2 linked regions of the Homo sapiens genome follow. The protein of the gene in region 1 interacts with the protein of each later gene in a pairwise test. Each region holds a gene or a part of one and is shown in the gene's direction. Other genes may lie near its edges.

Region 1 (6,118 bases):
CTCTGGAAGTTCTGGGTTCTGTGCCTGACACATAAAAAGTGTCCAGTGATGTCTATATTACTGAAAAATAAATACGTAAGATAGGAGGAATGATCCAGACTAAAAGAAACTGCCAAGATCTCACAGCTGAACACTCTAGGAGTCTGTGACGTTTTCTCCTAGATTCACTTATATTTGTTTGCTGAAGATGAAGAATTCTGATGAAGAGAAGGAAGGAAACAAGGACAGTGTGGAAAGCCAGGCGAGAAGCCATCAGCATTTTAGAGCTTGTATTAGGTCCTAACGTGATATGGGTGCTCTCTTAAGGGAACTAAAAGAAATGTTGAAGGGAATATTTCTTTTCTGTCTCCTGGAGGTGAGTATGGATGTAGTTATATAGATAGATGAGTACATTGGTCACTGCAAAAGGGAAAAAGCAAAATTGCCCCCTATTTCATTTCCACACAGTTCCTCCTGTCAACAGGTCTGGGTGTTGACGTAGGAACTGCAAGTTCCCACGTCCACCCCCGCCACACCCACAGCCTGCCCTGCATACACCACTGCTGGAGATGTAGCCAGGACAGCTTGCCCTGTCCCCTGACCCCACGGACCTTGTTAACACCGCTGCTCCCCTCGGTGATATTTACCTGTCCGTGGCTGTCCTGACCAATACTCCCAAGGAGACAGTGCATCACTGGGCCAACAGGGCAGAGCCCCAGGGGACCACTCCCTTTACGACATGGACGGACACTTTAGGAGTGACGGTTACCCTCTCCTTGGATGAGGAGGGGCTCCAAGGATGGACATGTCAGTCTCACCTGGAGGGAGAGGGGCAGTGGGTGGGGGCAACGCTCAGTGGCTGGTGGACAGGCAAGGGGTGAGTGAGCCCTGCCCAACTGACTCCATTGGCGGCCACTGGCCTTGCCTGGCATTCACGGAACAGGCGCTTCATAAACTTGTTGCTTCAATGTGAAATCACCTCAATTTTGTAAATGCGTCTGTAGCATCCACAGGACTCATCATCTAGAATTCAAACCCTTAAGGGTAAAGGCTGCGTCTTCTGTTTCCTCTGCGTCTTCTCGAAGCACTGTGTGTAAGGGCCAGAGCACAGAGGATGTTTCATACACGTGCCTTTGCCCTGAGACCGCAGCCCTGCCTCCCCGGTCCCACGCAGACCTCATGGAGTGGCCTCCACTTCGGGGCTTGGTACTGCTGTGTACGGAAGGGGCGGTTTCTATGGGAAACATGGACAAACAGTTCTATTTGGAATAAGCAACCACAGGGTGCCCACCCAGCCATCCTCCCAAAGATTTGTCAAGAAAAAAAAAGTAGAACGAGAATGGGCAAAAGCGTCCGACATACTTTACTCTTCTCTTGAGGCTTTATTTTTCCACTCCTGATTTAGAGATGACCACATTTGTTAGACAGCCCCCCCTTGTCCGCCCTTTCTCTGCAGGCCACCACCGTTCCCCCTACCCCATCCCAGCCAGCAGCTGGTCTTTCCTAATTGGTAATCTGTCTTAATAGCCACAGGTCCTCAGGCAGCTGTCGCCGGGAATACGAGCTGGCAGCATAGATCCACGTCACTAACTTAACTGGCTGGTCCTATTAGAGCTTAAGAAAGAATTAAGTTAATAATGATACTAATGAGACAGAACGTTGCATAGGAGAAAATAAGAGAAAGAAGGAGAGGAGTAGAAGGAGGAGAAGGGAGAAGAGGGCAAGGGGGGAGGGGAATTATTGCTATTAATTATTATTATTATTAATTATTCCTGGCACAGGTTTTGCAATCACAACCCAAGGTTGTGATAAAATCTTGCTCAAAATTCAAAAAGGATTTCAACTTTTCACTCTCAGTCTTATTCACTTTTCCATATGATGAGATTTCTAAGTAAGCCACCCGACTTCAGTCCTTGGTGCCCAATAGCTAGGGGCTCACGCCGCGTTCAGGGTGTGATGAGCGCCTGAGAACGGAGGTGGCTGCCCCCGCAACTCCTCCTGGAGTGAGGCCATCCCATCCCATCAGGGGAGGGAGCACCGGCCCCAAGTTCAGAGAAAGGCATCCCAAGCTCCTGACATTCTGCGGTCGGAAAATGGTGATGGATCCTGCTCATTTCTAATTATACCTTTCCCTTGGCAACGACAAAGATACGTGTGGAAGAAGCTGGTTCTCGGCTTGGGGGGGCCACTCATCCTCTTGCCAAATATAGAGAAGGAATGAGCCGCGGGGGTTACCAATGGCCTATAAAAGCCCCGGGGAGCAGCCAGCCCTCTGTGGCTCGCTTGTGGGCGGAGGTAAGTCACAGGCTCCTCTTCTAGGTCTCAGCTGCTTGGAGCACACCCACCCGGTGAGCACATCCACACCCCGTGCGTGGTTCCCTGGCCCTGCCTGGCTCTGCTGAGGTGGCGCCTCATGCCTTTCTGAGTTTTCTTAGGATAAGCAAGGTGTAGAGAGCGAGGTTCCCTGGGCCCAAACACCCAGCACCCTCTGGCTCCAGCACCTCCCCCAAGCAGGAGCCCTGCAGGTTCTCTCTCCTCCACACACTCTCCCCTGTCCTCCTCTCCAAGTGTCCTCTTGGGCAGGATCCTTTTGGATGCCCCGTGAGCCCAGCTGCCATGGCTTGACCTTCTCCCATTGCCTCTGTGACCCATGAAGGGTCAACAGGACTGGGGACCTCACTCTGCCCTCACCTTCCCCACCTGGGCTGTACATCTGCCAGGTGTCTTGTCCTCTCAAGACCACACTGGCTGTGGGCATTGCGTGTAAATTAATCTCAGAGATATTGCCTGTTCACAGACAAGGAGACCTGCCCCTGCCCTCGAACTGTTGACTTTAAGCAGGGATGCGGTCCCTGCTGTCCGATTCTAAATGGGAGTGAGGAAGACTGAAGAAGGTGCCAGTGCAGGCTGAGAGAAACCAGATTTCTGCACAGCTGAGGGTTTTTCCTCCCTGCCTGGCTTCCTGTGGGTCACGTCCCATCTGCTCTTCCATCTTCCAGCCTGCCTCTTTAAAGTATTAGTCTTTTTTTTTTTTTTTTTTTTTTTTGAGACAGAATTTTGCTCTTGTCGCCCAGGCTGGAGTGCAATGGCACAATCTCGGCTCACTGCAACCTCTGTCTCCCAGGTTCAAATGATTCTCCTGCCTAAGCCTCCAGAGTAGCTGGGATCACAGGCATCTGCCGCCACGCCCAGCAATTTTTTAAATTTATTTTTTATTTTTAGTAGAGAAGGGGTTTCACTATGTTGGCCAGACTGGTCTCAAACTCCTGACCTCAGGCCATCTTTCCGCCTCGGCTTCCCAAAGTGCTGGGATTACAGGCGTGAGCCATGGCGCCTGGCCCCTTTATCCTTTTTAGTTAACTCGTCAGAAGCCGATTCTACATGGACGCAGCCACCCCAAGTGCCGCTAAGTTGTGTATGTGCATATTCTTCCAGGTCTGGGATCTCCTGGCTGTTGCTGTCTTCTGCTCTCATCCTGCAGGTGGGACTCTCAGGTGAGAAGTTGGGCCCTGTCCCTCGGCTGTTGGAGATCTCCAGGCAATCCAAGCTTGCCAGTTCCTTTCTCCCTCCTCCCACCGGCCATAAGGGCACAGAGGGACAGGGGAACTAGCACATTTAGACAAGGACAGGTCGTGGCCGGGTGCAATGGCTCACACCTGTAATCCCAGCACTTTGAGAGGCCGAGGTGGGCAGATCATGAGGTCAGGAGTTCAAGACCAGCCTGACCAACATGGTGAAACCCCGTCTCTACTAAAAATAGAAAAATTAGCAGGACGTGGTGGCAAGTGCCTGTAATCCCAGCTACTCAAGAGACTGAGGCAGGAGTATCGCTTGAACCTGGGAGGCAGAAGTTGCAGTTAGTGGAGATCGTGCCACTGCACTCCAGTCTGTGACAGAGTGAGACTCCATCTCAAAAAAAAAAGGCAAGGACAGGTCAGGCGGGAGAGGAGGTGGCATTTGGGGGACTGTCAAACAGATGCTGATGTCAGATGCTTGATTTTGTTCTTAGCAACCCAAGGAAGCAAAAGGCAGGTTCCCGCATACGAGCGTGTAGCCACCTTGATTGAAATGGTTCAAAAATATCTTTGCTGTTTGCCATTAGCACACTCTCTTTGAAGATGGCGTTTATTTTTTAAGGGTGTTTATTTTTAAACGTTCCCTCAGCAACACCTGGTTGTCACAGAAGCGGAAAAGGCGGTCCCAAGAGTGGTGCTCACTTCCAAACCCCTTATCGCCAGTTCAAGCCTCAGATGCTTGAGGAGCTTGGGTTAAATAGGCTGTAAGACTGTCGCACAAGAAGCCCCTCAATAAATATGCACCCGTGTGATTTCCCAGCACTGAAGCCCTTTGGGTGGAGCTTCTCAAGGCATGAGGACAGCCTGGTTCCTGGGGCCCTGACTCTGAGGGCTCCTGCGGCTGAAGGAGGGCAGGGTGGAGGCTGAAACAGGCCTGGAGCTGCTGGGTGCCTGGCAAGGGGGCTGCTGAGCTCACCGGGTGGGTTTGCCTTCCAGCTGACACCATGAGTAGTGACACTGAAATGGAAGTGTTCGGCATAGCTGCTCCTTTCCTCCGGAAGTCAGAAAAGGAGAGGATCGAGGCTCAGAACCAGCCCTTTGATGCCAAGACGTATTGCTTCGTGGTGGACTCAAAGGAAGAATATGCCAAGGGGAAAATCAAGAGTTCTCAGGATGGGAAGGTCACTGTGGAAACTGAGGACAACAGGGTAAGGCTCTGTACCCTCCACAGGCTGCTGGCCCTCCACCTGGTCCTTGTGCTTGCCTGGGGTATGCATCTGCCCAACCCCAGCCACTTCCAGATGTGGTTCCAGCACTGGAATGCCGCATACAATGTAGCCTGGGGCTTCCCAGGTATCCTCAGAGAAAGCAGAGTGAATACTGGCCTCAGGTTCCAGGGTGGGAATAGAGTCTGGCTGTGGCTGATTAAAACAATTAGTTTTCAGGTATTTTTGTCCACGTTCACTGTAGGCCAGAGGGGCCCAGCTCCACGTGTCCCAAGGGTGTGGAGTTGGGAGTTCAACATGAATGAGCGCTGTTTCAGAACACTCTCCTTTGGTAGCCTAGATTTGTCCCAAATTATTCTATCAATGGCCATCTAACCAAGGAAGTAAGGAAAATGTGTTAGGGATCCTAGGGGACCACAAGCTCAGTGAAATAGCAGCCTCCTTGTATCATGAAGGGGATGAGCACTGCAGCCCATTACATTCTGGCCCAAGCCACTGTGGGGGTGCTGCGAGGAATTCTGGAGCTCACTAGTTTCTAAAATCCACATCAGGAGAATCTGGAAAAGTCCCAAGAAAAGTAAAAAGCAAAAAAAGGAAAAAAGAAAGAAAGAGTGAAAGAGAGATGGAGGGAAGGAAGGAAGGAAAGAAAGAAGGAAGAAAGAAAGCAAGGAAGGAAGGAAAGAAAGAAAGAGAAAGAAAGAAAGAAAATAAAAGAGACAAGTAAAGGAAATACTATCATTGGGTTGGGCATGAAGGAAAAAAGGCATTAAAAACCGCCCTGCACGTGAACCCGGGAGGTGGAGCTTGCAGTGAGCCTAGATCACGCCACTGCACTCCAGCCTGGGAGACAGAGCAAGACTCGGTCCCCCCAAAAAATAAGAACCGCCCTGCAGTGCTACCAAGCATTGGAGCTCCGAAAAGGTGGCTCTCTGTGTATTTCCAATAAGGAGCTAAGAATGGGCTGCTAACACGTCAGGGAAGGAGGAAGCTAGATACAGTGAATGATAATCTAAGATGAACCTAAGAGACCATCATAGACAGCCAGGGCCCATTGGCCGGGATGGTTTGAATGAATCCCTGCTTGAAGGCAGGGAAAAGGCAGGTTTCCCATCCACACTGCCCAGAGACAGAACCAGGAAAACTGACCATTTCAGAGGAGGTCACAGAGAAAAAGGAGGTGAGGACAGGGCAGGGAAGAGGAAGACAAGTTCCCCACCCCCTGTGCCTGAGGTCCTCCAGCTTCCCGAGGGTGTGGGGGTTTGTCCTGCTGAGAGAAGTGCAGGTGCTCAGAACCACTGCTCTGCCTCATGGTGCCGTTTGCCTGGCTTATAACACTCTGACCCCAGAAAGGGCAGGAAAGGGGTGGGGAGGGCAACTGAGGGGCCCTTTCCTGAGCAT
Region 2 (3,500 bases), on another chromosome or scaffold:
CACCTCTATTAATAGTAGAGGCTACTAATGAATACTTCTCATTCTTTTGTTTTTCTATTAATTAATTCATTAACTAAAACTACCATGAGTAACTGGGCCATAGTAGATATTTTTGACTGATTGTGTCAACGAGCAGCTTAATTTCCTATAGCATTTAATTGTCTGTACTTCTTTTCTGCCCTGCCCATTTTCCATTCCTTAATGTGATTATTTATATCCCTCTATTCATGCAGTTAGTTCATTGAACAAATATTTACTGAGTACCTACTACGTGCCTGGTGCTTTTCTAGGTGCTTGGATGCATACAAGAACAAAACCAGATCCCTACTGCTTTAAAGCTGAAACATCTTATTTCCTTGAAGGCCAGATCTGCTGCGTCCCCACTTGGTGAATTTCTGCCCTGTGTCATCAGCCAGGAACCCAGAAGTCATTACTGACACTTCCCTCTCTCTCATCCTGTCAGGGCGTCTCCTCCTCCAGCCTCCCCCTCCCACCTCTTCTCTTCTTGATCTCCTGGGGGTCTCTAGATTTGGGGCAGGAGTTGGGGGATCTTATAGAACTAGTTGGAGGTGGATTCCTGTCGTCAGGGAACACTCTTAACTCACCTATGTAGGGAAAGTGGGCTGAAGGCCCCGGACTCTCTGAACCTAGCTGTTTACATATTACAAATGACTTAAAATATTGAAAACAGCGGCCAGGCGTGGTGGCTCACGCCTGTAATCCCAGCAATTTGGGAGGCCAAGGCGGGTGGATCATGAGGTCAGGAGATCGAGACAATCCTGGCTAACATGGTGAAACCCTGTCTCTACTAAAAATACAAAAAAAATTAGCCGGGTGTGGTGGTGGGTGCCTGTAGTCCCAGCTACTCGGGAGGCTGAGGCAGGAGAATGGCATGAACCCAGGAGACGGAGGTTGCAGTGAGCCAAGATTGAGCCACTGCACTCCAGCCTGGGTGACAGAGTGAGACTCCATCTCAAAAAAAAAAAAAAAAAAAAGAAAAGAGCTTTCTCTTCTCTTCCTTCTTTCCTTCCTTCCTTCTTTCCTTCCTTCCTTCCTTCCTTCCTTCCTTCCTTCCTTCCTTCCTTCATTCCTTCCTTCTTTTTTTTTTTTGAAATGGACTTTCACTCTTATTACCCAGGCTGGAGTGCAATGGCACGTTGTCGGCTCATTGCAACCGCCGCCTCCCAGGTTCGAGTGATTCTCCTGCCTCAGCCTCCCGAGTAGCTGGGATTACAGGCACCTGCAACCATGCCTGGCTAATTTTTATTTTTATTTTTAGTAGAGATGGGGTTTCACCATGTTGCCCAGGCTGGTCTCAAACTCCTGACATCAGTCAATCCACCCACCTTGGCCTCCCAAAGTGCTTGGATTACAGGTGTCAGCCACCCCGCCTAGCCTGTTTTCTTTTTATAAACATAATATGTACTTGCTGTTAAAAATGACAAACTACAGAAAGGCCATGAGGCAAGAGTAAAAAATAGCCCCAAATCCTGCCACTTTGAATTAACTTGTTAACAATTTGACACATTTCCTCCAAGATTTTTTTTCTTAAAAATTTTAGTTATAAAATTTAACATACAAGGAAAGTGCAGAAGATATAAATATATGATTTAATACAGTAGTTCTCAACTGGGGGCAGTTTTTTCCTCAGATGACATTTGCCAATGTCTGGAGACATTTTGGGTTGTTGCCACAGGGGTTGGGGGCACAGGGTGTTTATCTACAGGGTAGAGGCTGAGGATGCTGCTAGACATTCCACAGTGCAAGGGGAGGTCCCCCACACCAACCACAGAGTGATTCAGCCCACATAGTAATCATGCCACGGTTGAGAATAAATATGTGTGTGAAGAGAATAACTATGTAATATCACCCAGGTCAAACAGGTCAAGAAATAGCACCTGGCCAGCCCCATTTCTCCACCAGAAGTAATCCCATCATAGATTTTTTTTTTCCCAAATGTTTGCACATTTGCTGAAAAATAAACCAGGGGGCCGGGTGTGGTGGCTCACGCCTGTAATCCCAGCACTTTGGGAGGCTGAGGTGGGCGGATTGCTTGAGGCCAGGAGTTCCAGGCCAGCCAACAGGGTGAAACCCTGTCTCTACTGAAAAATACAAAAATTAGCCAGGCATGGTGGTGTGTGCCTGTAATCCCAGCTACTTGAGGGGCAGAGGCACAAGAATCGCTTGAACCCAGGAGGTGGAGGCTGCAGTGAGCCGAGATCTCACCACTGCTCTCCAGCCTGGATGACAGAATGAGACTCAGTCTCAAAAACATCAATTAATTAATTAAAAAAAAATCCAGGGTCATTTTTTATGTCAGTAAGTATTCTTCTATAACACCTTTATAAATATCTGCGTAATATTTTCTTATATGGATGCACCATCATTAATTTACTCAACCCCCTACTGATGAATATTTAGGTTATATAAGTGTTTATATTTATATCCAGTGCTTAAATTATACAGTCACTGTGAGGCATATTCTGGTGACTACATCTTTGGCCACATATTTAATTATTTCCTTTGGGTAAATACCAGAAGATGAATTGCTATGTCAGAGGTTATAGACAGATTTAATGCGTTGCTGCATTTCCCAAATTGTTCTTGAAGTCTGTATCAACTTTATCCTCCTGTCAGCCAAGTATGAGGGCTTATTTTTCTAATAATCCTGCTAACACACAGCATTGTCCTGTAAATCTTTGACACTTTCTTTCTTTTTTTTCTTTTTGACAGAGTCTCATTCTGTCGCCCAGGCTGGAGTGGAGTGGCGCGATCTCGGCTCACTGCAAGCTCTGCCTCCCGGGTTCACGCCATTCTCCTGCCTCAGCCTCCCAAGTAGCTGGGACTACAGGCGTCCACCACCACGCCAGGCTAATTTTTTGTATTTTTAGTAGAGACGGGGTTTCACCATGTTAGCCAGGATGGTCTGGATCTCCTGACTTCGTGATCCACCCGCCTTGGCCTCCCAAAGTGCTGGGATTACAGGCGTGAGCCACCGCGCCAAGCCAACACTTTCTTAAGGTTCAAATAGTATTTGTGATACTTCATTGTTATCACCTATTCGTATTTATTCTTACTGAATTACTTTTTCATTTGCCCATGGTGGAGCATGTTTGTCTTTTTCTTCATTAGTTGCAAGTGCTCTTTATGTATTGAGAATGTTACCGTTTTTGTCATAGATGTTTCTAGTATCTTCTCCAGTTCTGTTTGTTTTTCTTTAATTGGCAAGTAAAAATTATATGTAAATATCTTCCCCAGTTCTAATGTAAATATCTTCCCCAGGCCTTCTGAGTTTAAAGACTACTCTTCTTGAAGTGCATTTCACCCTGGCTCCCTCCCTTTTTGGCCACTTCTGTGGTTCCAGCTAGGATTTAGGAAGGTGGGGTGGAGGGTGGTTGACGGGGAGAGGAGCAGTGCTCTGCTGATGATAGGGGAGACAGCTGCCCAGTTCTTGGGGTGTCCAGGCCTGAGAACACCATGGCAGGGCAGGTGTCAGAATG

The links. Proteins that work in one complex are often made in the same cells at the same time.
Region 2: the proteins of MYH3 (region 1) and DYSF interact in a two-hybrid assay, tested with the Homo sapiens proteins (one large-scale study listed by BioGRID and IntAct).

The regions. Positions count from the first base shown.
Region 1 is NC_000017.11:10,653,445-10,659,562, reverse strand, and holds the start of MYH3 (myosin-3), read left to right. Parts: upstream 1-2,253; 5' UTR 2,254-2,274; exon of another isoform or gene 2,275-2,327; intron 2,328-3,414; 5' UTR 3,415-3,473; intron 3,474-4,490; 5' UTR 4,491-4,498; coding exon 4,499-4,702; intron 4,703-6,118. UniProt on the Homo sapiens protein: Muscle contraction.
Region 2 is NC_000002.12:71,469,699-71,473,198, forward strand, and holds part of DYSF (dysferlin), read left to right. Parts: intron 1-3,500. UniProt on the Homo sapiens protein: Key calcium ion sensor involved in the Ca(2+)-triggered synaptic vesicle-plasma membrane fusion.